7 linked regions of the Homo sapiens genome follow. The protein of the gene in region 7 purifies or fractionates together with the protein of the main gene of each other region. This does not show direct contact. Each region holds a gene or a part of one and is shown on either strand. Other genes may lie near its edges.

Evidence for each region.
Region 1: the proteins of PREX1 (region 7) and SMNDC1 purify together in Homo sapiens (co-immunoprecipitation; one large-scale study listed by IntAct). This does not show direct contact.
Region 2: the proteins of PREX1 (region 7) and MTHFD1 purify together in Homo sapiens (affinity purification with mass spectrometry, with the first as the bait; one study listed by BioGRID). This does not show direct contact.
Region 3: the proteins of PREX1 (region 7) and PIP5K1A purify together in Homo sapiens (affinity purification with mass spectrometry; one large-scale study listed by BioGRID and IntAct). This does not show direct contact.
Region 4: the proteins of PREX1 (region 7) and CBS purify together in Homo sapiens (affinity purification with mass spectrometry, with the first as the bait; one large-scale study listed by BioGRID). This does not show direct contact.
Region 5: the proteins of PREX1 (region 7) and TPX2 purify together in Homo sapiens (affinity purification with mass spectrometry; one large-scale study listed by BioGRID and IntAct). This does not show direct contact.
Region 6: the proteins of PREX1 (region 7) and UTP25 purify together in Homo sapiens (affinity purification with mass spectrometry; one large-scale study listed by BioGRID and IntAct). This does not show direct contact.

What each region holds. Positions count from the first base shown.
Region 1 is NC_000010.11:110,301,587-110,306,603, forward strand, and holds the start of SMNDC1 (survival of motor neuron-related-splicing factor 30), read right to left. Parts: upstream 3,335-5,017; 5' UTR 3,162-3,334; intron 2,002-3,161; coding exon 1,882-2,001; intron 1-1,881. UniProt on the Homo sapiens protein: Involved in spliceosome assembly.
Region 2 is NC_000014.9:64,453,886-64,457,692, reverse strand, and holds part of MTHFD1 (C-1-tetrahydrofolate synthase, cytoplasmic), read right to left. Parts: intron 2,971-3,807; coding exon 2,818-2,970; intron 1-2,817. UniProt on the Homo sapiens protein: Trifunctional enzyme that catalyzes the interconversion of three forms of one-carbon-substituted tetrahydrofolate: (6R)-5,10-methylene-5,6,7,8-tetrahydrofolate, 5,10-methenyltetrahydrofolate and (6S)-10-formyltetrahydrofolate.
Region 3 is NC_000001.11:151,239,460-151,243,680, forward strand, and holds part of PIP5K1A (phosphatidylinositol 4-phosphate 5-kinase type-1 alpha), read left to right. Parts: intron 1-495; coding exon 496-580; intron 581-2,663; coding exon 2,664-2,810; intron 2,811-2,978; coding exon 2,979-3,108; intron 3,109-4,221. UniProt on the Homo sapiens protein: Catalyzes the phosphorylation of phosphatidylinositol 4-phosphate (PtdIns(4)P/PI4P) to form phosphatidylinositol 4,5-bisphosphate (PtdIns(4,5)P2/PIP2), a lipid second messenger that regulates several cellular processes such as signal transduction, vesicle trafficking, actin cytoskeleton dynamics, cell adhesion, and cell motility.
Region 4 is NC_000021.9:43,068,895-43,073,115, forward strand, and holds part of CBS (cystathionine beta-synthase), read right to left. Parts: intron 3,308-4,221; 5' UTR 3,300-3,307; coding exon 3,091-3,299; intron 1-3,090. UniProt on the Homo sapiens protein: Hydro-lyase catalyzing the first step of the transsulfuration pathway, where the hydroxyl group of L-serine is displaced by L-homocysteine in a beta-replacement reaction to form L-cystathionine, the precursor of L-cysteine.
Region 5 is NC_000020.11:31,794,318-31,798,538, reverse strand, and holds part of TPX2 (targeting protein for Xklp2), read right to left. Parts: intron 4,138-4,221; coding exon 3,991-4,137; intron 1,136-3,990; coding exon 1,024-1,135; intron 175-1,023; coding exon 1-174. UniProt on the Homo sapiens protein: Spindle assembly factor required for normal assembly of mitotic spindles. Required for normal assembly of microtubules during apoptosis. Required for chromatin and/or kinetochore dependent microtubule nucleation.
Region 6 is NC_000001.11:209,854,821-209,858,588, forward strand, and holds the end of UTP25 (U3 small nucleolar RNA-associated protein 25 homolog), read left to right. Parts: 3' UTR 1-2,745; downstream 2,746-3,768. UniProt on the Homo sapiens protein: Component of the ribosomal small subunit processome for the biogenesis of ribosomes, functions in pre-ribosomal RNA (pre-rRNA) processing. Essential for embryonic development in part through the regulation of p53 pathway.
Region 7 is NC_000020.11:48,820,981-48,825,201, reverse strand, and holds part of PREX1 (phosphatidylinositol 3,4,5-trisphosphate-dependent Rac exchanger 1 protein), read left to right. Parts: intron 1-3,557; exon of another isoform or gene 3,558-3,796; intron 3,797-4,221.

The sequences.
Region 1 (5,017 bases), on a different chromosome or scaffold from region 7:
ACTAAAAACTCAGCTCCTAAGTAAACCTAGCTGTATTTCAAATATCCAACCAAATGTGGCTAGTGGCTATGGTACTGAATAGCAGATATAGAACATTTCCATCATCACAGAAAGTTCTACTGGACAGTGCTGTTTTAAATGGTTATAGAAAAGAGGATACTTTACAGAAAAATGATTTCCAGGTCATTATTAACTGAACCCCTGCAAGCAAGCCTTTTAGGGGCTTACTACAGTGTTTATCACAATGGTTTCCCCCTACAGTACTTTCCACTATGATGATCATGACATGGTAAGGCAGTTCTGCTCAGACTCTAATGAGGAATTATTCTAGAAATATTAAAAAGACCTGATGATAATGCTATTTCTAACTCCACTCCCAACTTCCCCAACCCAACCAGTTCAACAAATACCCCTCCTCCCACTGCCCAAGAAGCAATATACAAAACATTGGCACCCAGTGTTTTCTTTTCCTAAAAAAGGACTGCTTAAGTTGGTAAAGGTAGTCAAGGCATCTCTCTTTGGGGCAAACAGAAAGCACTTTACAGAGTGTAAGAAAATAAGAGGTCGGTGTGCCTCTGTTGCCTCATCTTCAATGTATACTCACAACATATGAGCAAATCAAATGGACAGGTGGCAAACCACTGGGTTATTTCTCACTTAAGGGCCTGGGAGTGGGAGAAACTGCTCCCAAAACATCTTTTTTGTATTGACTGGCACCCTGAAGCCCACAGGCCTGGCTTCTACGTATCGAAGAGGGGTCTTGTTCATATTGAAATTAACCCAGATAGTTTGTGTGTGTTTAAAAATAACATACTACTGCAATTTTATTCTAAATGTAGAACTTGAAAGTATTCAACTCATCTTAATTACGCCCAGATAAGCAGTTCCAGAATCCCAAATCCGGACCCTATTTCCGTTAAGTTTGTTTGCAGTTCTGATATCCCTAAAATAGTAATAGTTTTAACGGGCAGTGGGATAATAAAGGGAGGGAATGAATTTTTAGACAGGATACAGATTTGAGTTTAGTACTCAGTCGGTAAAGCAATCTCTAATCAAAACACCCTTGAAACTTTTTAAAAATCAGGTTCAGAATTTAAAGGAAGCTCTTAAAAGTCATATATATTTGCAAATTATATATGGCATTTTTCTGAATCAGTCTGGTGTCCTGAAACACAAAAGGTATTTACTATGATGGCTCTATGTTTGTCTTGAAATCCCAGTGCAGGTTTTCAAAAAAAGGTTTCATTATCTACTAAACTCTACCATGACAAAGATCTCCTTTTCACCACATAGTTCAATTTCCACAAGTGTCAACAACTTTACTGTAAAACCTAGCCTTAAGTCTGAACATCTATGTAACAATTATACAAAGCACTTGTCTCTCTTTAGGCATTTTTGTGGTGTGTTTTCAATACAAAATGTAATCCACTAGCTTTGGGGAAAAAAAAAAGGCACGCATTTTCAAAGAATCTTGTGGTATTAAAAAGAATCTTAAGGTTCTATTTTTCTCCTTCAATCTTTGTTACTTTTTGAACTAAATTTCATTTGCCAGGTCTTAAAAACTAAAAGCGTTTTTCATTGTGAAGTTACATGTACCTCTCGTCTTGAAAATCTGACAGACTTGGAAATTTCTATCAACTTTAGTTTTTAAAAATTATGTAAGCACACAAGATTTATATAACAAAGAACAATATTTCACTCTGATGTACAGAAACCTGAGAACTGGGGAAGCAACCCTACTTCTACAAGCAATGGTACCTACAGAATTTACATATATACATAGGGTGGGGTGTAACCCCTCAAAAGGCGCTTTGGGTACTTAGGGATTCAAGCAATAATTTGAAAAACAGAGAAAAAGTACAATTGTCTACCCATACTTACTTGTAAATCTTTCTTCAATTTTAGCAAATCTTCATTTTCTCCATTTCCAGATAATGCAGCTTCAACTTGCTGGAGCTGAGCTTTGTAGCTTGCCAGCTGCTTTGCTAAATCCTCTGACATCTAGGGAAAATAAAAAGGGTTAGACCATGAAAACTAAACCAAAAATCAAGGCATAAAAAACTAACTCCCCTGTCTGCCTGAATTACCAGTTTTTGCCTCTAACTCCTTCTAACACTGCAGCTTAATTTACCACCATTACCTTTACTCTCAGTTTAGACTTCAGCTAAACCACAAACTTAAAGGCAACAGATTCTGAGGATTATAAACTTGAGATACATTCCATACTTTAAAAAAGCATACAGATACAAAGAAATTTCTAATTTTCTTTTAACTCCTATCCACAGGGTAGGTGCTGAATTCGGCTCAATAATCAGTGTTATCTTTTTAAAAAGCACTACTCTGTTGGAAAAGTCGAAACTTTCAAAAACAATCCAAATACTTATTTTTAAGCACTACAGTATGCTTCCAAAGCCAAACAAGTGCGTTTTTAAATTAACTACACAAACTACGATCTTTACTTGAACTATTCAATTAAGAGTGTATTTAAAAGTGCCTCTCCAAAACAAAAATCTTTCGCCCAGTCGCTTAAATATTTATCGGTGCATTATCTTCAGCAAAAAGAACAGCACAGGTACTCTCCCATTTAGGCATTCTAACGAATGTGCCTTTCGCCAAATCCAGCTCAGTCATTTTCCTGAAAATAAGATACCAATTAACCTTTTTTGATGGTTTATAAGCAAATGTACCACGTTTCCGAGGACCCTTCTCCTTCGTAAAATTCCCGTCCAACCAAAGGCTGGGAGCCTGCAAAGGCCCCCTAAGAGTTACAGCGACCCAGGCTGCTCTCCTCCCCGCCACGCAGCACCTCAAAGCCCGCCACAACTCGATCATTCGGACGTGGAAATCCACACGCCAGCTCCAAGACCACCGCCGGAGCCCCGCCGCGCTCCAACAGGCAGGCTCCACAGGGAGCCGCGCGGCGCCCAGCCCCACCCGACCCGGTCCCCTGCGGGCCGTGTTTGCCGCCGCCGCACGGAGGCCAGCGCCGGCCGGGCCGCCGAGGCTCAGCTCTGGCTGAGAGACGGCCGTGGCTCCGGGATCCAGGGCCAGCGCCTGGGCGTCTCCGGCGAGGCGGGCTCCTCAGCCTTGGGCCTCCGCTTCACCTCGGGAGGGACCCGGGCCCGGCCAGGCCTTACTCTCTCCCTCAGGGGGGTTGTTACCTTGTGTGGGGCTGGGGGCGGGGCGGCGGGAAGGGGTCGGGGCAAATGAGCCCAGTGGTAGTGGCGGTGGCAGCAGCAGCAGTAGCAGTAGCAGGAAAATCACCGCGACGACAGCAAGGCGACCCGGTCTGAAAAGGAAGAACTCGGTCGGCGGCGAGGGGGAAGGGAGGAACGCCGGGCACTGGAAGGAGGAAAAGACAGAGACGGTGAAGTCTCGCGAGAAATACAAACTCTCGCGCGAGGTCGCTCGACTCACGTGACTCCGCGCGCCCTCTAGCCAGTCCCTGGCTGTCAGGGACACGAAGTAGGCGGGGCCTAGGAAGGAAATGGCGTAGCTGGGCTTCGCCAGGCGCGGAATGCAGGTTATCTTCCTGGAGTTCCGGCTTGGAATTTATTGGAAATGCAAATTCTCAAGCCCCACCCCAGACCTCCTGAATCCAGAGACTCTTGTTTTAATAAGCTCACCAGATGATACCAATGTCCGCTGACGTTTGAGAACCACTGCTTTTCCGGGGCGGTGGTGGTGGGTGGCGGGGGGTGTTGGTGGGGGCTCTCTTTACGTTGCCCTGGCTGGTCTCCAGCTCCTGGGCTCAAGCTATCCTCCTGCATCGGCATCCCAAAATGCTAGGATTACAGGCGTGAGCCACCGCGCCCAGCCTGAGAACCACTACTTTATATGATACAAGCCTTAGTAGTAACAGAAAGCTAATTAAATCGTGACAGAAATAACCTATTGGAGAGAAGATTGATTTCTTTAAAATCTGTTTTGTTAAAACCTACTTGGTTTTAATTTAGTTGGGTTAATCTCGCCTGATAGGGAACAACGTCCAAGTTAGTCTAGAATGGTAAAGAGTGGTAGGAATACTCACATTTGTGTTCAAAAAGAAATGCCCCTTGTGTATGTTTGTAATAATATATACGCTTTCTGGACGGATACACAAAACTGTTCAGAGGTTTGGAGTGGAAGCCAAATGTTTTATTGATTACCCTCTTTGCTGTTTACCCTTTTTCCTTTTCTTTTTTTTTTAAACCATATATATATAATTTATTTCAATTAAAAAAGCAATAAAGGCCTGAGACACAAAGTTTTATATAGATGACAGGAAGCAACCTTTCCTGGGAGGTTGGGAGTTTGTTGCTGGATCCATAAAAAGGCCCACTTCTCGCGGATCACCTGAGGTCAGGAGTTCGAGACCAGCTCGACCACGTGGAGAAACCCCGTCTCTACTAAAAATACAAAAAAAAAAAACCAACAACAACAACAACAACAAAAAGCCGAGCATGTTGGTGCATTCCTGTAATCCCAGCTGCTCGGGTGGCTGAGGCAGGAGAATCGCTTGAACCTGGAGGCGGCGGTTGCGGTGAGCCGAGATCGTGCCATTGCACTCCAGCCTGGGCAGCAAGAGTGAAACTCCGTCTCAAAAAAAAAAAAAAAGGCCCACTTCTCAGATGGGCTCTTTTGAACTGTGCCAACATCTTTAGTTCCTAGTTTTCTTTTCAAGGAGCCTTCCCTTTTGTTCTCTACACACACACACATAACCCTTGCAGTGAGTCAGATAACCTGTATAGATGGAAACTAGGTCGGGTTTGTGAGTGTGAAAGATTGAAATTGCAGCAGAGGGCAGCAGTGTGTAGCTAGAATTAAGAAGGCAGACAAAACAGAAAGCATGTGCTTTTAAATAAATATTCGTTTAAAATAAAATGTAGTTTTAGAGAACTTCTGTTATTGTAATTGTGTGTTTTAAGAACCGATGCGAGGAGGAACTTCCTTGAATATAAAGTCAACCTTATTGTGTAAAAATCTCTTAAATGAGAACTTTTCCTGAACCCCATAGATCAGAAAATAGGCAAATATT
Region 2 (3,807 bases), on a different chromosome or scaffold from region 7:
CCTGAGGTCAGGAATTTGAGACCAGCCTGACCAACATGGTGAAACCCCATCTCTACTAAAAATACAAAAATTAGCTGGGCATGGTGGCGTGTGCCTGTAATCCCAGCTACTTGGGAGGCTGAGGCAGGAGAATCGCTTGAACCTGGGAGGCGGAGGTTGCAGTGAGCCGAGATCTTGCCACTGCACTCCAGCCTGGGTGACAGAGCAAGACTCCATCTCAAAAAAAAAAAAAAGGAAAAGAAAAGAAACTGATTCCTCATGTCCTTCTGCAAACCAAATGCCAGCCTTCACTATCATCTTCCATGTGGTCACAAGCAGTAGCAGGAGGTGTTTCCACCTTCACCTTACAAGAATGAGTGCTGGGGAGTAGAGGAGTTGCTCACTCGCCTCCTCAGCTCACGCTTTGCAAGACCAAAAGGAGGTACAGGGCTTGCCTGCTTTTAAATTTTGTTTCGTTCAGTCTTGCTAGCTGAGCTGCCCATGTGATTTTTGCTTCAGCAACACGATGGTAGGAGTTAGTATCCTTTAACTTGGGCCAAGACACTTTTGTACATAATCTAGATGGTTTTATAATCACCATTCTTACTGGCCCAAAATGGCCTTCTAAAACTAAACTTGTAATGCTTACAAATTATATTTGTACTCACTACTTTTCTAAAGACTCGGCTTTGACAAATTTCTACTTAGATGCAAATATGTACGGCTTGCAAGTGAAAACTCCGTATATTTTTATCTGTAACAATGTCCTATATAATGAATACACACAAGTTCCAAATCAAATCTAGACAGGAAAACAGCTTAGGTTACTTCTAAAACTTAACTATAAAAAGGTTATTTAAAAAGAGTCATCTTCTGTAACACAAAACATCATCAATACTTTAGAAAACCTCATTCTGACTGACTTCTGAGTACCAATCAATATTCCCCAAAACACATTATAGGGATCTGACAACTGGTTTATATTCTTATATTGTGTAAGAGGTAAGGAGGTGCTAGGTGTGAGACAAGTAGGAGAGAGGAAAGGATGGGTCCTTAGACACAGCAGAAAAACCGGAAGATGACATTATAAAGATAAAAGACACATGCCCATTGTTGTAGACGGGCATGTGCATGTCAGCAGAAAACCCTAAAGATGGTTCCCTAAACAGTGATGAGTAGGATTTTTGATATTTTCACTCATTCCCCAAGAGGATTTTCCCTCCTAAACACTGGTCACTGATAATCAGAAAAAATACAAAAAAAGACAATATTATGTGTACGCACATGTATGAACCTAGATATAAAGTTCTGAAAATAAGCCATCACACTTTGAATTAATATAGAAAATATTCAAATAATCTGAGTCTCGTTAAGGCCCCAACGGCAACTGGAAGGTGTTAGAATAGTGATTAAACCATTTGATCATGTGTGGAAACGCCTTGGTCCAACTTAAAGTTAAAAGCCTCTGACACATACTTTGTTCTAAATGAGAAAGTCTTGAGTTCGGCAGGCTGTGTCTCTCTCCACCTTACAGCCTGACTCTCACTGGCCTGACTGCTTCCAGATTTGCTTTCACCTCTACTGTTACCCTTTTCTTCATGTGAAGATCAAAAGTGACAAGAAAGAGTACAGCTACCCGTCTTTCAGCTGGTAGCTGCTGACAACTTCTCCAAAAAGAACAACACATATTTCTGCACTATTCAAGGTGCTGGGTAAAAATGGTGGAAAATTCCTACCACAAGGGATTTCTACAAATCCTGGAGACTGATGTACATCATAGCAAGTCTAAGCCTTCTGCTCTCTATAGAGAGCTAAGGAGGCAGTGAGATGCAGGCATTTGTGCTAAGCACCACTGTGATGTGATGATGTTGCCTACAGTGTGAGCTGAGGGCAGCAGGGCTCTCACCTTTCATAATTTGCCCAAGGCCAAGATCTGAAGAGGTGAAAATGAATTCAGCTCTAATGTCCTACGTTTTCAACTCTATAATGCCACCTCCTACCACTTTCTTACTATACTGAAAGAATGACATAAATCCAAAAGGATGTATGTTGGTTTCTTTTCCATGTGTGTTGATTTAGTTTAATATTTCAGTCCTGTATTGCATGGCAGTACAATCTGTAGATACAGGATACAGGGCAGATTTAGGGGATAACCTAGATTCAGGATCCAAGTTAACCTTGGAACAATGTCAGCCCAAACTATGATTATGTCCTTAAGCATCCCTCCCCTCTGCTTCCCAACTGGCAATATTCTTCTTTGAATATGCATAAAATCTGTAAGATAAGAAAGCAATGGACACCTTGTTCACCTTGAAGCGTAAATAAGCAACCTCACCTTTCATATCTCAAGGGTCCATTTGCATTTTTTAATGGGGAAATTCCTTACTTAAAAATAATGAACCCCCTGAATTTCAGACGTAAGTTCTAGGCCTGTCAGTAAAACCTCTGTCCCTACCTCCTAGGGCTGTGGGGGGACTGAGTTAATCTATGTAAGGCTCCCAATAAACATTAACTGTGATTATGTTAGCACTACCCCAGCCTATCAACTGGGCTCATCCTAGATTCAGTGAAGAGCATACTGTCCCTGGGAAACAGAATTTTTTATTCAGTATGAGTAGTCCTGGCATCATTCTTGATTTGACACCAAGATGGTCCACAGCAAGAGCTATATAGCTCCTGCTTTATAGCTTATGATCCACAGCAATCATAATAGGCCCGATTCCAATTTTCTTCTGGGCAGTGAACTCTGCTCACTTGGCATTTGCTTGATGGTTTCGGCAACACACTTCAGACGAGAAGTGCAGATGCGCCCACTACTCCCTTGCAGCATGCACTTACCGTTCCTACTAAGGGGTACAGAAAACCAGCCCCAACGCTGGCGCGGATGTCGCGAATGGGCAGAATGAAGCCTGTAGGGACACCTTTTTGCTCTGGGTTGTGAGACAAAGACAAGTGTGTTTTAGCCATGCAGATGGGGAGATTCCCAAAGCCCTGGGGAAAGAAGGGAAGAGAGGGAGGACAAATGAAAAGATGACAACCCAGCAATGACCATCTGGGCCCTGTGATTACATGGATTCTTCAATTTATTCGAAACATCCAACTCCCTTTATATACATCTCTATCTTGCTGTCCTCCAGCTTATTTATTAAGCCAAAAAAAAAAAAAAAGAACTGTTGGGTGAGGGAGTTAGGTACTCACAACTGTAGTCCACAAGTGAATATTTTATTTCCATCTATGGAAATAACATAAAACTAATTTAAAATAATAGTTTGGAGTAGATATGAGAATAAAATTGGAGAGGGTCAGGTGCAGTGGTTCATGCCTATAAATTCCAGCACTTTGGGAGACTGAGATGGGTGGACTGCTTGAGCCCAGGAGTTCAAGACCAGCCTGGGCAACAGGGCAAAACCCCATCTCAACAAAAAACACAAAAATTAGCCAGGTGTGGTGGTGCGTGCCTGTAGGCGCAGCTACTCAGGAGGCTGAGGTGGGAGGATCGCTTGAGCCTAGGAGTCAGAGGCTGCAGTGAGCTGAAATTGTGCCACTGCACTCTAGCCTGGGCAATGGAGCCAGACCCTATCTCAAAATAACAAAAACTGGAGACGTTCTCAATATTTTGGTAAGACATTCTGTATTTCCTCATGGATTTCTACACATTCATATAACGCCTATGGGTAAATAAAGAACCAGGGACTGTGCCACCTAATCCAAACTCAGTATTTCAGAGGAGAGAAGGCTGCCACCCAGAGAAGTGAAGCAACGGGTACTTGGCAGGGCTGGGAGGACCCAGAGATTGTGACTCCAAGTCCTGCTTTGCAAAGAGTTGAA
Region 3 (4,221 bases), on a different chromosome or scaffold from region 7:
ATGGGTTTCACCATGTTGGCCAGGCTGGTCTCAAACTCCTGACCTCAAAGTGATCCGCCTACCTTGGCCTCCCAAAGTGCTGAGTTGAGATGGAGTCTCGCTCTGTCACTCAGGCTGGAGTACAGTGGCACAATCTCAGCTCACTTCAACCTCCATCTCCCAGGTTCAAGCAATTCTCATGCCTCAGCCTCCCATGTAGCTGGGATTACAGGTGCCCACCACCATGCATGGCTAAGTTTTGTATTTTTAGTAGAGATGAGGTTTTGCCATGTTGAACAGGCTGGTGTCGAACTCCTGACCTCAGGTGATCCGCCCACCTCAGCTTCCCAAAATGCTAGGATTACAGGTGTGAGCCACTACGTCTGGCCCCTTCCGTTTATTTCATCTGTAGGTTTTACCCTTCTGCTAGGGGCTCAGTCTGGGGGAAGATGGCCCTTGGACTAGAGTTCCTCTTGCCGGGCCTCCTAACTCTATAGCATTTCTTCTGCTCTGCAGGACACTGTCTCAGTGCATCGCCCAGGCTTCTACGCTGAACGGTTCCAGCGCTTCATGTGCAACACAGTATTTAAGAAGATTCCCTGTAAGTGGTTTCTACCAATTGACTGCCTACTCCTGCCCAGTGGCTCCCTTACCCCAAGAGAACAGAGGGCAGGACACCTCTGGTAGGGAGCTGCCAATGCCAGAGGCCTCTCCTTCCACCTACATCCCATGAGAGCCATTTCTTGTCCTTTGTGTTAGTCTGTCATAGTCATTTCCAAGTTGCTGTTTCCCCCTTGGCTCTTCCTGCATATGTCAATGAGGTGAGGACCATTTCTGGGGAATTGGGATTTGCAAAAAAATAAATAAATAAATAATGTGTAGTTGTGGATGTAGGATCCATGCCACAGAGATAGGCAGAGCCTATGTACAGAGATACGCAGTGAGGTTAATGGTGTTCTGTTTTGTCTTCTAGACTATCTCAGGTGGTTACAGAAGCATTTACTGATTTCTGCTTAGCACATGTTTTTAGTCTCTTTTCTCAACTTTCTTGTTTAGGAAGTGCCAATATTTTTTTGCAAATCTTCCATGCTGCTGCCATAGCAAATTCTAGCTTCTCTTTCCCTTCTTCTCATATTAGGCATCATTATTCCCATAGCGAGGGAGAGGGGACCTAGGCATGCCAGTCTTAAGGGATATGGAAAAACCAGGCTGGGTGCAGTATCTCACACCTATAATCCCAGCACTTTGGGAGACCAAGGCAGGAGGATCGGTTAAGCCCGATAGTTTGGAACCAGCCTGGGCAACATCATGAGACCTTGTCTCTACAACAAATTTTAAAAAGATAAAAAAATCTTTACAAAGTGATAAAAATTACAAGTATCAATTATTTAGTGCTGGGCACATACATGCTAAGAAAATGTAGAGTGAAAGAGTTATCTTTCTTGGCCCGGCACGGTGGCTCACACCTGTAATCCCAGCACTTTGGGAGGCCAAAGCAGGTGGATCACCTGAGGTCAGGAGTTCGAGACCAGTCTAACCAACGTGTTGAAACCCTGTCTCTACTAAAAATACTAAAATTAGCCGGGTGGTGGTGAGCACCTGTAATCTCAGCTACTCAGGAGGCTGAGGCAGGAGAATCACTTGAACACGGTAGGCAGAGGTTGCAGTGAACTGAGATAGTGCCATTGCACTCCAGCCTGGGTGACAAGAGAGGAAACTTCATCTCAAAAAAAGTTATCTTTCTCAGGTTTTACTATAGGATACTATTAAAGAAAAAGGGGGGCCAAGCGCAGTGTCTCACACCAGTAATCCCAGCATTTTAGGAGGCCGAGGAGGGCAGATCACAAGGTCCGGAGATTGAGACCATCCTGGCTAACACGGTGAAACCCCGTCTCTACTAAAAATACAAAAAAAAATTAGCCGGGCATGGTGGTGGGCTCCTGTAGTCCCAGCTACTTGGGAGGCTGAGGCAGGAGAATGGCATGAACCCGGGAGGCGGAGCTTGCAGTGAGCCAAGATGGCACCACTGCACTCCAGCCTGGGCGACAGAGCAAGACTCTCGTCAAAGAAAAAGAAAAAGGGGGCAGGGCAGTGGCTCATACGTATAATCCCAGCACTTTGGGAGGCCTAGGTGGGCGGACCACCTGAGGTCAAGAGTTCGAGACCAGCCTGACCAACATGGTGAAACCCCGTCTCTACTAAAAATATAAAATTAGCTGGGTGTAGTGGCGCATGCCTGTAATCCTAGCTACCCAGGAGGCTGAGGCATGGGAATCACTTGAACTCTGGAGGTGGAGGTTGCAGTGAGCCAAGATCGCGCCATTGCACTTCAGCCTGGGCAACAAGAGCGAAACTCCATCTCAAAAAAAAAAAAAAAAAGGAATTATGCAATAGGGTACATTTCATCTGATGGAAGTAAAGCAGTCATCAAGGCTCCATGTTGGGGGGTTAGGTGTGGATATGTTTCCTTTCTTCTAGGTTTTCATGCCTCTTGGAAAGTGAAGTGAGCTAACACCTTGTTCTCTGAATAGTAATTCATAGGCCTGTCTTTGTTGACATTAGCCTTTTCACTTTTCAGACCAACTTTGGGTGTGTGTTGGGGATACTAGCAATTATTTGTATCTATGTCTTGGTAATAGTTGCTAAGGTAGTTGCTAAGTAGGCTCTCTCTTTCCCTTTTGAAGTGAAGCCTTCTCCTTCCAAAAAGTTTCGGTCTGGCTCATCTTTCTCTCGGCGAGCAGGCTCCAGTGGCAACTCCTGCATTACTTACCAGCCATCGGTCTCTGGGGAACACAAGGCACAAGTGACAACAAAGGCAGAAGTGGAGCCAGGTCAGCGCTAGGGCTGGGGTCCCCATGTGATTGGGTACTCCCTCCCTTCCTTCTGAGCCTTTATCTTGTCTGGCCAGGACCTCTGCTCCCATTTCTATCCAGGAAGCCTAGCTGCTACATATTTTTCCTTGTATTTACTGTACCCCATCTTCTCTATCTTTTTTCCAGGCGTTCACCTTGGTCGTCCTGATGTTTTACCTCAGACTCCACCTTTGGAGGAAATCAGTGAGGGCTCGCCTATTCCTGACCCCAGTTTCTCACCTCTAGTTGGAGAGACTTTGCAAATGCTAACTACAAGGTTGGTTTATTGGCCCCTTTCTCCATATAATCTTATCTCTCTTTTCAAGTCCTTGGAAACCTCTATAATTTGATTGCATCATAATAAATTACCCCAAAGATTAGTGGCTTAAAATAACAAACATATATCATACTTTCTGTGGGTCAGGAATCCAGGCCCAGCTTAGCTGGGTCCTCTGGCTCAAGATTTCTCATGAGGTGGCATTTAAGCTGTTGGCCAGGGCTGGGGTCTCATCTGAAGGCTCAAACAGGAAGATCTGCTTTTAAGCTTATTTATGTGGTTACTGGTAGGATTCTGTTCCTTGTGGGTTGCTGAACTGAGGGCCTTAGTTCCTTGCTGGCTGTTGTCTGGGGGCTTCCCTCAGTTCTTTGCTACATGGACTTCTCCATAGGACAGCTCAGAACATGGCACCTGGGCTATCTGACAAGTGAACAAGAGAGCATGTGCCTATGCAGAAACCATGGCCTCTTATAACTTAATCTCAGAATTGACATTCTACTTGTGCTACATTCTGTTCACTAAATGCAGCCCACACTCAAGAGGAAGGAATTACCCATGGGTGTGAATACCAGGAGGTGCAGGGATCATTGTGAGCCATCTTAGAAACTGCCTGTCATAGTCTGCTCTCTGGTCTCCAGTAATTTACATACCTCCATGTCGAAAATACACTGACCCCCTCCCAGGGTCTCATCCCATTGTAGCGTTAGCTCAGAGTCCAGAGTTTTATTACCTAAATTAGGTCCGGTTGGATGAGCCCCCCAGGTATAGTTCCTTAAGCACAGCTCCTCAAGTACAGTTCTTCTCAATCTGTGAACTTGTGGAACCAAAGAGACAAGTTATCCTTTCCCCATGTACCTAGCATACAATGGTGAGACAGGCATTAGATAACCAATATACACATTTCTGTACATAAAAGGGGAGAATGGGAGGCACAAAAAGGAGTCATTGATTTTATTTGCTGTTCCAAAATCCAGGAAATGTTGGAGTTTCTTTTATCAGGCCTCAAAGCAGAAGAATAATTCTCCGTGGTTCTTGGCTCTACCCTCTAGACTCTTGGTTTTGTCTTCTGAGTCTTCCTTTTTCATCAAAGCTAGAGTGTGTTTTTACCTGAGT
Region 4 (4,221 bases), on a different chromosome or scaffold from region 7:
CAGCTTCCCAGGTTTGAAAATGAACCTACAGTCGTGGCAGATGTTGTTAGTGGGAAGCTGGGAGAAGGGTACAAAGGATCTATTATTTTTGCCACTTATTGTGAGTAGTAAATTATTTCCAAATAAAAAAGTTAAAATAAGCAAATACTGACTCCAAAACAAAGGTTTAGGTCCACCTTTTCAGAAAGGCTTTACTGGAGATGACATTTCCTTTCATCTCTCAGCATGTGACCATAGGAAGCAAAAAAGTGTCAGGGCAGAGACTCCTTAGACCAGGGACAATGGCTGCAAAGCGCAGGCGGGATGTCTAGCCCTGCACAGAAAATGTCAGGCACGTGGCAGACTCAGAGCCCCGGCAGAGGCGCTGTCGGCCAGGCTCGTGATGCCCTGCCCTGCAGCATCTGGCTGTGTAAACCCTCAAACCCTGGTCCAGGTGGTTTCCTAAATGGCCCTCATGCCCCTGCCATCCTCCCCCAGGGAGATGCTGATGACACCCCCTATCTATCTGCACCAAGCTCACCACATACTCATCTGGGAACACGCATGGCTTACAGCGGTCTCCAGACCCGCAACCCCTCCCTGGGCCTTGCAGCTCCGATGACACCCCGTGGCTAACCCTGGGCCCCCTCTTCAGCACAGTCACCTGCTGAACAGCCAGGGTCCTTGGGTCCTGCCCCCCAGGAGGCGACCCTTAGACCTGGGGTGAACCCAGCTCCCAGAGGTCCTGTGCCATGGAGGGAGTGCCACATTTGCAGGGAGAGCTACCCTGAAGGCCAAAACAGGCGCCAACAAGAGCAGCTGGAATCCAATCGCACCCTTCCCGGGGAGCAGAAGGCAGTCCTGCCAGGTCCCCAAACTGTACAGGGGCCAGGGAGGTTCCCTCAGAAGCAGTTCTCGGCAGAAGGGAACCAGGCTTGGCAGGTGTAGAGAGCCAGGGCCAGGTGGAAAGCCAAGCCCCAGGGTGACAGCGCCGGGGATTAGTTCATTAATTCAGTTCGGGCATCTGGCCAGCCAGGCGGGAAGAGTCCCGCCTCCCTGCAGCAGGTGTGCTGACTCAGCACTGGGCCTCGGTGGCTGTGAAGTTACCTGAGAAGTTTGCAGAGGTGATCAGGGCCAGGCCCAGAGCGCTTAGCAAGAAAAAGGATGTGACTTGCAGGGATAGCCCTGGAGCCCCTTATCTCAAGGACTCCCACTTCCACAGCCCAAGAGGCTCCTGGGAGGACACGCCACTGTCCTAGAATGAACCTCCAACTCCTGACCCACCTCTGCAGCACCTCCCCGCAACGCCACTATTCTCAGGGGCCCTCCGACTGGAGACAAGCGGCGTCGGCTCTGCGTCTCAGGATGGGGGTGTCTTCGGAGGATGAATGAGGCCAGTATGTGAGGTGCAGGTGCAACGCCATTTACAACCTGGAGGGCATCGTCTCCTTCTCATGCCCTAGAGTTAGGAGCTCACGGAGCCCTCAGGAATCGGGCCTGTCTTCCCTGCCCACTCCACCCTCCAGCAGCCACTCCCGACCTCACCGGGCCTCTCACCCACTGCTCTCTTGGGTTTGTCTTGGCAGCAAGAGCCCATCCTCCTGGCTGCCCACACATCTGCTTGGCCTCCTGAGCTCCCAGCACTGAGTATGTTTGACACTCAGACCTTCTGGGTTTGTCCACTGTCACTTCTTTCTTTCTATTGCTGCACTGAGAGTACACCCAGCCACCCCCACCCATTCTGAACTGTAAATCAACAACCATAAACGCTGGTAGTGGTGGACACAAAATAGGAATCATAATCCCAGCACTTTGGGAGGCCGAGGCGAGTGGATCAACTGAGGTCAGGAGTTCAAGACCAGCCTGGACAACATGGTGAAACCCCATCTCTATTAAAAGCATAAAAATCCACCGGGCGTGCTGGCACATGCCTGTAATCCCAGCTACTAGGGAGGCTGAGGTAGGAGAATCGCTTCCCGGGAGGCAGAAGTTGCAGTGAGCTGAGATCGCGCCACTGCACTCCAGCCTGGGTGACAGCGAGACTCTGTCTCAAAAAAAAAAAAAAAAAAAAAGGAATCAAACATCTAAGAAGCACATTCTTTGATCTATTTGTTCTCCTCCAAGATTACACTAAGGAAATAAAGATAATCCTAAGGCTTAGTGAGCTTGATTTCAGTTTCATGCTGGGGTAGGGATTTTTGTTGATTTGTCTTTTCCACTGATAGATCTTCTGCGCCTTGAGCAGGGCACGAAATGCACATGGCGCTGAGGAAAGACTTGTTGGCTAAATGAATGTGTCGTATCTTCTATTGCAGTTATGTAAAATGAGGTAACTGCAAACATCTATCTACCCCGTAGAGGGCTTACAAAATGATGGCTTCTTCACCGAACAGTCTGTGCCACCAGAAAAACAGCCCTTATGGAAAAATATGTAATGCCTACGGGAAGTCTTCATGACCTAGAGTTAACGGAAAAGTGCAGGCTGGGCCGGGCGCGGTGGCTCACACCTGTAATCCCAACACTTGTGGGAGGCCAAGGCAGGCGGATCACTTGAACCTAGGCATTCAAGACCAGCCTGGGTGAAACCCCATCTCCTAAAAATACAAAAATCAGCTGGGTGTGATGGTGGGCACCCATAGTCCCAGCTACTTGGGAGGCTGAGGTGGGAGGATCCCTTAACTGGGGGAGATTGAGGCTGCAGTAAGCCATGATTGCACCACTGCACTCCAGCTCGTGTCTCAAAAAAATAAAAAATAAATAAATAAGAGAGCGCAGGCAGGATCCTGGTCCCTCACCTCCAGTGAATGTGCACACGCAGCCACAGACCGGGCAAAGCATGTGACCTGGGCACATTTATTTATTTATTCTGGAACTACTTGCTGAGCATCCACTGTCTTGCCAGGCACTGGCCTAGGCGCTGGGCTGCAGCGTAAGGAGGCCTTGGCCTCTCAGAGCCTCATCTACACGGCATGGCCCCACCCCCAGCTCCTCAATCCAGAGTGACTACAGGGGGTTACACCTCATGTCCTCCTGGCTGTGTGGTGTCCAGGTAACAAACTCCTGCCCTCCAGGTTATGGATCAGCCCTCTTGTGATCAAAAGCAGGACTTACGGGGCAGTGTGGTGATGTGGGGACTCGGAGGCAGGCCGGCCCAGCTGCCAGGTGCACCTGCTCGGAGCATCGGGCCGGATCCACAGGGGCTCCTTGGCTTCCTTATCCTCTGGGGACCCCTTCTCCAGGCTCCCCTTCGCCGAGTGTGGCCCTGAGCGGTGGGGGCAGCCTGTGGGCCCCACTTCTGCCTGGGGGGTCTCAGAAGGCATGCTGGGACCTGGCAAAGCAAGGAGAGAGGCGTCGGTTCAGGCTCGGATGCTGTGGGGTTCCAGCGAACCCTGCTGACCCGGCCCCCTCTGGGAGGCGTGCTCTGCTCCCTCAGAGAAGCCCAGGAAGAACTGCACAAAAACACAGGCACCAGCCCTGTGGGCAGCCGCTTGGCCATTTCTCTCCTATAGGCATATACCAAAAAAAATGGAAGCAGACAGTTGCTTGGGCCGGGTGCGGTGGCTCACGCCTCTCATCCCAGCACTTCGGGAGGCTGAGGCAGGAGGACCACTTGAGTCCACGAGGTCAAGACCAGCCTGGGCTCCAGCCCCATCTCTATTTAAAAAATAAAACAACAACAACAAAACAGATGCTTGCACACCCATGCTCACTGCTGCACTATTCACAAGTCAAAACGTGGAGGCAGCCCACGTATCCGCAGACGGATGAACACACACAGTAGGCTCATACACACACTAGAATATTACTCAGCCCTAAGAGAAATGAATTCTGGCACACGCTACAACACGGACGAACCTTCAGGACATTATGCCAAGCGAAATGAGCCAGACACAAAAGGACAAATACTGTGTGATTCCACTTCCACGATGAGGCACCTGGGACTCTCGAACGCCCCTCTATGTCTGGCAAATTCATAGAGATAGAAAGTAGAATAGAAGCGGCCAGCGGCTGAGGTGAGTGGGGAAGGGAGGGTGATTGTTTAATGGGTGCAGAGGTTGTGCTGGGGATGATGAAAACGTTCTGGGTGGAGATAGTCACGGTGGTTGCCTCACACTTAGAAATGGTTACAGTGATCAGTGTTACGTGTATTTTACCCAGGATTAAAAACACACACACGCACCTGAAATAGATGAGACAGAAAAAAAAAAGAAGAAAGCAAAAAGAAAGCCAGGCGAGGTCCCA
Region 5 (4,221 bases), about 17 Mb from region 7:
GCCTGGCCAGCTCCTCTTTTTTCTGCTCTTCCTCCTGTAGTCTGGCCTCCTCCAACTGCTGGGCTTTCTGGGCTTCTACCTCAGCCATTCTCTTCTCCAGCTCCTGCCGCTCTTTGGCTCTCTTCTCAGTAGCCAGCTGAAAAGGTTCCTGAACTAGAGAACCAGAAAGGCCCTCTAAGTACAGAAACAGAAAAAATATTGGTGCACAAGCAGGACTTGCATAAACCTACGCCCCCTGGAATGAGCAAGTGGCACAGACATGCACACTAACAGGAAGACTGTGCTCTAAACAAGCCCCATTGGGAGAAAGGTAGAGCCAACTAAATACAAAAAGTTTTAGAATTTTAAGAGTTCAAAGGGCCCCTGGAAATCGTCTGGTGTAATTGGGAAAAAGGCAAAGACATAAAGTAGCTTGCACAAAACTATATAGTGATTGATTTTGAGGCAGACATAGAAGAAAGATCCCAATATTCTTTTTTTCCCTTTTTGGAAAGATTTTTTTGAAAAAGAGATGGGGTCTTGCTATGTTGCCCATGCTGGTCTCAAATCCCTGGGCTCAAGTGATCCTCCTGTCCGGGCCTCCCAAAGTGCTGGGACTACAGGCATGAGCCACCACACCCGGTGGAATCCCAGTATTCTAGCACACTGCCCAGTGTTTAAGGAATCAAATGTTTTATATCTAAAGTTTGCTTCAGGGTGAATTCCAGAAAGCCATACTGGCTCTCCCTCCCTCATTTACTTGTTTCTCTGTGGATGGGGAAAACCTATCATTGTTGTTGAAATGCCAGCTGCTTCTGCCAAGGTTCATGTTAAATGAATCTGGCCCTAACACATCCTGCAACTCAACATAGCTGCTGGGTTCAATAAAGGCAAAAAACTGGGTCTAGGGGAAGAAAAGCTACCATCTGCTAAAGTCAAATGCTTCTAGTTGACACAGCATTGTACTGACACACTGAATTCCAGCATCCCACTGGGAAGTCTGACAATTCTGCCCGAGTCCCATCAGAGTACATATAATACTACCAGCAACTGATTTCTTCTCTTTCTTGGGAACAAAGGGCTCCTGAGAGATGACGGTGTTTGGACGAGCCTTGAAACAAGCTGCTTCTTTCTGCTGTCTCAGTTCTTCTTCCAGCTATTAGAGAGAAAGTCAGTCAGATGAGCAATGTCTCACCTTTCTATGACCACTACCTCAATAACTTAAGTTCTAATGTCTGAACTGCTTCATCAATAAAAATAGCAGATTTAATATAAACCCTAGTAAAAATCTTTCACACAAACTTTACAATGAACAGATCAGTCTGACAACATTTGAACTCACTGAGAACTAGAAAGCATTTTTAAGATACTTTTAAGATTCCCAAGTTTGCATTTTCGACATTAAAGTTTACTTTTTTTTTTCTTTTTAGTTTATGTTCACATTTATTTTTCTTATTATTATACTTTAAGTTTTAGGGTACATGTGCACAATGTGCAGGTTTGTTACATATGTATACATGTGCCATGTTGGTGTGCTAAAGTTTACTTTTAAATTAAAAAAAAAAAGATTCCAAACACAAAGAAATGATAAATGTTTGAGATTATGGATATGCTAATTACCCTGATCAGATCATTACACATTATACATATTGAAACATCACTATGTACCCCAAGAATATGTACAACTATTATTTGTCAATTAAAAAAAACAAAAAATTTTAAAGGTACTTTTAAGACCTATCTTTATATCATAAAAATAAACAACTAGACATTTTCTGCCTTCACACATGATTCATTAGGAACTATACAGTATCACCTATAAAGTATTCTTCCCACCTCCAAAAAAAAAAAAAAATCTAACCAGAATTGAATCAAGCCTCCAGATCTTACTACTCATTTATAGGAAATACAAGCAACAGAGGAACATGTTAGACAACTGTGTGGGAACGCAATCAGCAAAATCCAGATTGTGGAAAATCTACAGTACAAACAATCCAGTTTATTCAACAAATAAAATGCAAAGAGAGGAGCCTATAGATTGAAAGAAGATTCGGAGATTTAGCAAACAAAGGCACTATGTAGACTATATATGGATATTGATTTTAACAATTCAACTGTTTAAAAAATTATGAGAAATGTGCAGATATTTGATTATTTTTAATCTTTTTAAGTGTGAGAATATTATTGTGGTTATAAGTCTTTATATTTTAAATATATACACTGAAGTATTTTTGGATGAAAAGGGATGTTACATAGAATTTGTTTCAAAGTAATCTTACACAGGTAGAAGTATCCAGTGTAAGATAAGTGGGTAGAAGTTGGGATGAAACAAGACTTTTCATGTTTTGATCACTATAGAACCAGGTGATGGGTTCATGAAAATTCATTATACTATTCACCCTACTTTTATATTTCTGAAAAGCTTTTTAAAACAATTGTTTTTGTTGTTGTTCTTTGCAGAAAATGCCCTACACAGACATTCTGTGTCTTGGTCATTGAGAGGGGAAAATTCACTATTTCCAAGGCAACAGTCCTAAGGTTTCTTAGAGAACCACACTAACAGGGGACCAACGTTCAGTCATGTAAGCCATTACAACTCTCGGGCTTCAGGAGGGGTAATTCCTACAAACAAACAATAGCCTAGAGCTCCTTTTGGAAAGAATCCAAGATTAATGATGACATAAAAATCCAAAAAACTTAGAAATTCAGGGGAAATTTTTTCCAGCCACGTAGAATTAGATCCCAATTAAATCAGCAAATAACCAATTAATTGTTTTAAATCACCTGTCATTTATAAAGAGCAAATAGCACATCATGCTGAGAAAACAGCATTGTATATTTCAATCTATTCTCCCATACTGTTTCTTACCAATGCATCAACAGAAAGGAATAAACACAATGAATGAGTCTAATAGATGGAATAGATAAGATCTTAAAGAAACTCCCAACTCCAGAAAAGCCTGTCGGTTCCCACATTCCCCGGGTGATCACTTGGAGCAGGGGACATTCCCAGGTGATCACTTAGAGCAGGGGTCAGCAAACTCTGGCCTACAGGCCAAATCCAGCTTGCAACCTGTTTTAGGACAGCGCTTGAGCTAAGAATGGTTTTTACATTTTTAAAGAGTTGATTGGGCACAGCAGCTCATGCTTGTAATCCCAGCACTTTGGGAGGCCACGGTGGGCAGATCACTTGAGATCAGGAGTTTGAGACCAGCCTGGCCAACATGGCAAAACCTTGTCTCTACTAAAAACACAAAAATTAGCTGGGCGTGGTGGCACGCGCCTGTAATCCCAGCTACTCGGGAGGCTGAGGTGGGAGAATCACTTGAACCTGGGAGACGGAGGTTGCAGTGAGCCGAGATCGCACTACTGCACTCCAGCCTGGGTGACAGAGCGACACTCTGTCTCAAACCAAACAAAAAAAGAGTTGAAAACATGTAGCTGGGTGTGGTGGCTCACACCTGTAATCCCAGCACTTCGGGAAGCCGAGGCGGACAGATCACGAGGTCAGGAAATTGAGACCATCCTGGCTAACACGGTGAAACCCCATCCCTACTAAAAATATAAAAAAATTAGCCAGGCTTGGTGGTGGGCGTCTGTAGTCCCAGCTACTCAGGAGGCTGAGGCAGGAGACTGGCGTGAACCCAGGAGGCGGAGCTTGCAGTGAGCCGAGATTGTGCCACTGCACTCCAGCCTGGGCAACACAGCAAGGCTCTGTCTCAAAAAACAACAACAACAACAACAAAATGTGTGCGTACACACACACATACACACACACACACACACACACACACACACACACACTATGCGACAGAGACCATATGTAACCTACAAAACCTAAAATATTTCTTATCTGGCCCTTTACAGAAATAATGTGCTGACCCCTGATTTACAGTGAGAGCCCCTGAAACAATGTAGCATGTTAACCCAGGTGATTTCAGTATGGTGGGTCTGCCTGTACAATCAACCAACCAAGCAATTAACATTTTGGCTGCTCTCCCCATCCCCTACCTGGTGCTTCCAAGTCTGTGCCTTCAGAGCACCTCTTCTGTCAGTCTCCAAGCAGAAAGGTTCAATCTGGGTCACATTCTTTACCTTCTTCTCTGGCAGGTTAATGGTGTCAAAATGAGGCAAGGGAAGTGCCTTGAACTTGGGCACCTAACAGAAAAGAAAACATGAGGTTTAAGATAAAGACTAGCTGGAAAGCAATAGCTGCTCCAGAATATCTGGAAGAATCTGAAA
Region 6 (3,768 bases), on a different chromosome or scaffold from region 7:
AGAAGTGGCTCTTTTCAGGGCACGGCTTCTGAGGAGCGTGGGGCCACCACAGCTAGCCCTCCCTCCGTCTAGCCATCCTCTCCTTCCAGTCCCTTTCCCATCTTTTCTCTCAAAGGAGCATGGTAGTGATCTTCATTACCAAATTTCTACTCCACACTTATTTTAAAAAGCTTTTCTGAAAGCCTGGCTACATAGAATTCTAAACAGATTTCAGTCAACTTTTAATTAGAGTCAATGAATGGGGAGTAAATACACAGATAATCCAAAATTGATGTAAGCATTGGAAGGGGAAAGAGGGAACGCTTCTTTCCCTCTGGGCTTGGTCATTTCCTCCCAAGCAAACCCCGCGACGTTCAGCCGTCTTCCTCCTATGCCACGTGCTCTCACCAGAACTGCAGCAAAACTGCATTTTATGTCCTGTGTCTAAAGCTAAACACATGTTCCTGTCTACTTTTGCTTTGTTCCTGTTTCCCTTCTGTGAGGACCTTCCCCTCCTCAGATGTGGGGAGTTGCCGCCTCCACTTGCATTACATGTATTTCAGAGTAGGTCCTAGGCTCCCCTTACACCTCTGGTCACGTTGCCATTATTCCTATGGTAGATAAAGGGGATGAGAAAGAACAGAGCTCCAGGCCTTTTTCAAACAAACTGGTTTTCTCAGTATAGCCCTATGCTCAAAAGGAGTGAGGACAGGTATGTGACTGCCATAAGGAGCTGTTTGCTTTGCACAGAGAAATCTAATCTTTCTCCTGCTGGGCAGCTCAGTACAGATGTCCCCTCACTGCTGGAAGAAACACCTGCCCTTGCTTGTTCTCCTGATGGCCCCTCACAGTCAGGTGTGGGATGGCACATTTCTAGGTGCTCCTCGCCGAGCTGTCATGGGCTTCAGTCTTGGGCCTCTGCAGCTGGCTGTGACCAGGTGGAAACTGTAGCCTTGGCTGACCCAGAGAAGGAAAGGAGGCAGTCTGCCGCTTGGCTGATTTAGGAGTTGTGCTGAATTCCTGCCCATCTGTTCTCCCAGCTGAGCCAAGGCCAAAGCTGTCTACCTTTTGCCAACCTAAGGAATGACACAGAGCATGGAGCACCATCACTGAAACATCTGCCCCAGTGCCCTGCCACCTTCGTCCTCACTGACCTCTGCAGCCTCTCTCATCTGCCAGTTTTGATTCCGCAAGGAGAGGTGGCCCTGGGCTCACAGCTGGTGTTTGTCCACAGATGTTCATGGGTTTCTTTGTGTTCTCTCATTTTTTCAAAGCTGGGTGTTGGGACCAACATCACCACTGACATTCTGTGGCTCTAAACAAGTCCTCACGACCACTTCTCAGTTTTCTCATCTTTATGAAGTATGGAGTAATCCCCACTAGCCTTATAGAGGGACTGTGTGAGAAGGGAAGAGACTGCTATTGTTTGCCCTATATCCACCTACTTCCCTAGTTCCAGAACGCTGGACTTTAATGAGATAACAAAGTACCTAGTAAAAACACTGCATCATTTTCCATCCCCCACCCCTTGCAGTAAAATGTGGCCCATGAGACAGAAGCACTAACTACTGAGCAGGACTTCTAGGGGAGTTCTTTAAAACTCAGAGGAGCACCACTTTTACCTTCTGCTCTTCCCTTTTTCCTGCCTGGAACGCAGAAGTGATGGCTGAAGCTCCTGAGGCTATAAGCTCTGTACGTAGGAGAGTGGTGAAGAAAGGAGCTTGGTTCTGCAAGGATGTTGTAGAGCTGCCATACCAGTCCTGCATGGTATTCCTGTGCACTACTGTTACGTGAACACACAAACACCTAATTTGTTTAAGCCATTAGGCCAGGCCTCTATTAGCCATTCCTGACTGATACAGAAGACAAAAATGGCATCACAGACTCCTGAACTCCAAAGACACTGCCTATTCTTTCGTCTGTTCTTGGCAAGCACCAACATTGAGACTGTACTTCAGGGTTGATGCTGGCCATTTGGTGGCGTGAGGAGTGGGCACTCACATGTCTCTGCTAGCAGTTCTGACGTGTCCATTCCACACTGGATCCATAGAACGAGGGAACACAAGTGTCTTCTCATAAGATTTATAGAAACAGTGATCGTTGCAGAAAAATAATTAGCAAGAGAACAGACTTCAGCTCTCTGAAGGCTGATGACCACCTGTTTCTCATCTCTTCTAGTGTATGTCAAAGCTAAATTAGGTCAAATAGGAAATAAGTCAGAATCCCCAATTCGATAGAAACTTACAGGTCTTGTGATCTAATCTGCCACTTGATCCGTGAATTACCTATAGGTCATCCCTAAGAGGTGGCCTCCAGCTTCTGCTTGAATTCCTTCAAGGATGGGGTGCTCATTGTGGCTTTTCTAATCATCTCTGATTGTTAGAAACACTGTGAAACTTTTATCCATCAGTCCTGTTTCTGAAGCTGTACGGTACAAATTTTTTTTTTCCCCACTTAAGGCTCAACTATTGGAATACATCTACCATGTCTCCTATGAAACTTGCTTCTCCAGGCCAATCATCCTTACTTCCTTAAACTTTTTTTTTTCCTGAAAAGTTATTCTTTTAATCTTATTAAAAAAGCAACCCATGCCCATTCCACAAATACAAGTGAAATAGTGAAAAACAAAAATCAAACTACATCTATTTGGTGATCATTATTAATGTCTTATGTTTCCTCCCAGATTGTTTTCTGCATGAATAATAACCAACAATGTGTGTGTATGTATATATATGCTTTTGCATTAAAAGGTGGTTTTGAAGGTAACATTTTTTGGAGTACTGATTAAGCGCCAGCAACTCTTCCAAGCTCTTTGCATGTATTACATCAGTTAATCCCTCACACCCGTTTAAGGTAAGCATCCTTATTTTTCCCGATTTCCACACAGGCAGCACAATCCTGAAAACCTACACTGTTTTTACTAGATAATTACTTCTCTAAAAACAAAACAATAAAAGCACTCAATAAATAGTAGTTATTATTACCCTTTTTAATGAAGCAATCCTAATTGTTGAACTCTTAAAAGGACTAAGGGATGGCTCACACCTGTAAATCCAGTGTGTCCGGAATTGGTAGGTTCTTGGTCTCACTAACTTCAAGAATAAAGCCGCGGACCCTCGCCGTGAGTGTCACAGGTCTTAAAGGCTGCGTGTCTAGAGTCTGTTCCTTCTGAAGTTCGGATGCGTTTGGACTTTCTTCCTTCTGGTGGGTTCCTGGTCTCACTGGCTTCAAGAGTGAAGCTGCAGACCTTCGCGGTGTTACAGCTCACAAAAGCAGCATGCACCCAAAGAAGTGAAGAACAAAGATTCCACACCAGGACAGAGTACGAGGAGATGCCACTGCTGGCTCCAGCAGCCTGCTTTTATTCTCTTATCTGGCCCCACCCACATCCTGCTGATTGGTCCATTTTACAGAGAGCCGATTGGTCTGTTTTACAAAGAGCTGATTGGTCCGTTTTGACAGGGTGTTGATTGGTGCGTTTACAATCCCTAAGCTAGACACAGAAGTTCTCCAAGTCCCCACTAGATTAGCTAGATACGGAGTGCTGATTGGTGTATTCACAATCCCTTAGCTAGACATAAAGAGTCTCCAAGTCCCCATCAGATTAGCTAGATACAGAGTGCCCATTAGTGCATCCACAAACCCTGAGGTAGACACAGGGTGCTGATTGGTGTGTTCACAAACCTTGAGCTAGATACAGAGTGCTGATTGGTGTATTTACAATCCCTTAGCTAGACATAAAGGTTCTCCAAGTTCCCCACTAGACTCAGGAGCCCAGCTGGCTTCACC
Region 7 (4,221 bases):
CTCTCTCATCTTGGCCCGTCAGGAATGGCCCCTAAACATCCCAAGGCATTTTCGTTTTCAAAACTAACCTGGGGCTTAGAGCTTCAGGAACTGCTAATTACCAAGGCTTTCCATGGTTGCAAGGCTGGCAGCCTCAGGTTGTGATTCTCTTCTGTCTTCCCACTCTCTCTTCTCAGCCTTTATATTTGCTAAGGGATTTTCCCTGCTGTCTCCTGGCTTGGAAGAATGCACGGTAATCCCTCCCTGCTTTTATTTCCATGTGGTTAGAGGCAGGCCTTAAAGGACCACCCTGGTCTCCGTGTGTCCTTGGTGTGAAGGTCCCATCGGCCCATGGAAACCGTGGAAAGTAACCCCCGTGATAGGGGCCATGTGTGGCTTCTGTCCTCAAGGAGAGGACGGTGTAGTGGAGGATGGCCAAATGGGTGTTTAAAAAAAACAATCCAAGTGCAAGGCTCTGGAGCCAGACTGCTTGAGGTTAAATCCTTGGACTTGTGACCTTGGGCAAACACCTTAACCTGTTTGAGCCTTATTTGTAAAAAGAGGGATGTTAATAGGTCCTATTTTATAGGTTTTTAAAGAAGATAAGTGAGTTATAGAAATTGATGTAAAGCACTTAGAACAGTGTCTGGCAGTAAGGTATATAAATATTGGTTATTATTGTTGTTGTAGGAAAATTAAATAATACAGATAATTAGGGTTGTGGGACTTCAGCATCCAGAGAGCAGGGGTGATCAGAGAGGGCTTCCTGGAGGAAGTGAGGTCTGAGTTAAGTCAGCACTGAGAGGAGGATGGGGGCTCTGAGTGAGTTTCCTTTTGACACCCTAAACTCCGGCCACAGGAACCAGTGGTTTTGTTTGGTTCCAGGCCGAGGGCTTTGTGGTTCCTTGAGAATCTTCCCATCTTTCCCCATCTCCTTCAGGAACTGGGTTGCACTCCCTCCCTCATCTCCAGGGAGTCCTCTGAGTTTGGTGTTTTGCGTGTGTTTATTAAATAATCATGAAAAGGCAAGGACAGCCCTTTCACAGAGATGCTGGATCGGTCTTGGGGGAAACAGTGCCTGGGGTTTTGACTCAGAACCTTGGCTCGAATCATTTCGAGGCCCTGGCTATGTGGGGTACTCCCCGTGTGCTCTGGGCAGCGTTAGTCATGATGAAAACAATGACAGTCATTGCTGTGCAGGAACTGACTTTGATTCATCACTTGCCATTCTAAGCACTTTGCATGTGTCAACTCATTTAATTTTCTTTATGAAGGGGATGCTGTTTTTATCCCCATTGAGAGGTGAGGAAACTGAGGCAAAGTGAATCTAAGTGAGCTGCTCTGGGTCAGGTGGACAGCATTGCCAGGATTTGATCCTAGGCTGCCTGACCCCACAACTCATGTCCCCAGCCACTTGATAGACCGCCTTTGGCTGATCCAAGAAGGGCTTGGCACATGATTTATTAAGGTGGCAGAACTGGGATTTGAACCCAGGTCTGTGTGATGTTTCACCTCCGCCTGCGCTTCCTCCTGTTACTTGCCCTCTGTGACTCCCATTCTTTTCTCCACAGAATGGGAAGAACTGTGGACGGATAGAAATGGCAGGCTGCCGAGTTCTTGCTCTGGGCTCCGGGTCTGTTCATGGCACGAGGGTTGAGTGAGGCTCTGGAGTCATGCTGCTGGTGTTCAAATCCAGGCTTCTTCCACTTGGACTGTAGGTGACCTTGGGCTGATCACTGACTTGCTCTGTGCCTCAGTTTCCACATCTGTCCAACGGGCACAGTGTAGCACCTGCGTCACAGGGATGTGGTGAAGCTTGCCCCCCACTCCCCTAGAGGAGGCTGAGTAGACCTTGGGCCCACCTGCCAAGGGGAGGCACCTCAGGGGCAGGTGCCAGTAACTCCCATGATGGGGTGTGTCAGCTGGGCAGTGGTCGAAAGAGAAGAGAGGGCCTGGGTGGGTGGGCAGAGAGGCCGGTGGGTGGGAGTTGGTCAGCAGCTCCTCGAAGGTCTCCCCGTGGCTGAGGACAGAGAGCTATAGAGACACAGAGGGTCTGCCCGGAACCGACCAGGATGGGAGTCTCTGAGGAACAGGGATTGTGGGCAGAAAGCTCCCAGAATGCTTTCTGTGGTTCTGCTTTTTGGAGGGAGGAGACAAAAGTTTTTCTTCTCATTGGAGCTCCGCTTGCCAAACAAGAAACTGTGGTTTTTTGTTGTCACTATTTTTTTTTCTGTTTTAAAAGATTCTGTACTCCTAGTCTCACACTAGGGAGAAATGCCACGGGTGGTTGGGGTGGGGGCAGGTCTTTGATTTCACAGTCATTGAGGCAGAGGGACCTCCCCAGTAACTTGGGGGGATTTTCACGTGGTCCTCATATGAAAAGTAGGATGCTGAGAGGTATATGTAACACAGTTCTTTTGGAAAATAAACAATAACCATAATATACACGTGTGTTATATGTATAAGGTGACATTAGGTTGGAGAAAAGGATGGAAGGATGTGTATCTTTTACAGAAAGGCAACCAGGAAGATAAGGAAGTAAAATCCTGTTTATAATACCCTTTTCATATAAAATTATGCATATGTATGCGAATATATTTTTTAAGAAGCCGACAGGAAGAATTGTATTTTCAACATGGTTATTAGATTAATGCAACAGTAATAATGGTAACAATTTGCTAATATTTATATACTTGCAAGCCCTGTTTATAAGTTCCTTAAGCATTAACTCAAAAGTTGCAGGTATTCTTATGCTTCCTGTTTTACAAATGAAACAAAGACACAGAGAGGCCAAGTCAGTTTCCCAAGGTCACACAGCCTGACAGAACTGGCACTTGGACCCAGGTAATGCGGCTGCATGGCCCACATTCTTCACCACTATCCTGAATTGCACCAAAATGAGGCTGTGTTCATGAGCAAAATTACTGCCCCTGTGAGACCTCTGGGCTGCCCAGGTGGGCAAGAATTAAGTCAAAAAGTCCACCTTATTTCAGTTTTCAGATGCCGGAGAGCCTGGAACAGGCCACCTTGTGTTGGGCTCATCATCATCAGGAAGTCAGTGAAAATCTTTTGATGGTAAAAACTGAGTGTCAGCAGGATTTAGATGGGTTACATTTTTTTTAATGTATGGCAGACAGAGAGCTCTGTACAGATAAAACCATGAAGATATGAGACTGCTTTTCTCTGTGTGCAGGTATTTATGGAGCATCTGCTGTATATCCTGGGCAGTGTTCTGGGCCACGAGAATGAAGTCATCAACAGGTCGTTGTCCTTATAAGAAGGACAACCCTGTGGGGATTCTACAACTCATTCTTCAGACAAACCTTCTGGAAGCCTACCTACTTTTATTCTGGTGTTTGCCCTGGTAGCAATTTAACTGTCACTTTAAGAAGACGCGAATGGGGTTGGTGTCTCTGGCTTTTGAGACTTCAGGGCACCCCTTTCTTGGAGAGAAAGATACTCCTTTATCAGGCCAGAGAGCTGAAGACCTGTTGGGCTTGGGGCCACTCCCTTTAATAAAGAAACCCACATCCTATTTGCTTCACAGCCGCTCTCCCTTAAAGGTTTTGCAAGAGTTTAAGTGTTTGAAGCAGGTCATGCCTGGCTGCAGGAGAACCTGACCTCTCCAGATTTTTGGGGCTTTTCTTTTTTTCCAACAGACACAGGCATGCTGGCTAGAATACTGGAGGGAGGTGGGTGATAGGGTGGGCTGCCCCTCAAACCTGTGTGCTGTGTCCCACAGCATCATTCCCCAGACATGGGGCCAGGTCGGAGCTGATTCCTGCCCTGCGTTTCGGAGATCTTGAACAGAAGCCAGGTGGGTCATTCGGTCTGAATCTCCTTGTTTTGCAGGTGACATAAATTGCGTCCCCAGAGGGGAGGTGAGCACCAGTTAAGGGCAGTAGCCACTCAGTTTGTTAGAGTTCCATCCCCAGATACCTGGGAAGAGAGCTTGGTGGCCCACATCCTTTTCTGGGGATCTGTGTTTTAGCCAGGATCAAAAATCCCCCCGTTTTTTTTTAAGATGGAGTCTTGTACTGTCGCCCAGTCTGGAGTGCAGTGGCGTGATCTTGGCTCACTTCAACCTCTGCCTCCCGGGTTCAAGCGATTCTCTTGCCTCATCCTCCCGAATAGCTGGGACTACAGGCACGTGCCACCATGCCCGGCTACTTTTTGTATTTTTTTAGTAGAGACAGGGTTTCACCATGTTGACCAGGCTGGTATTGAACTCCTGACCTCAAG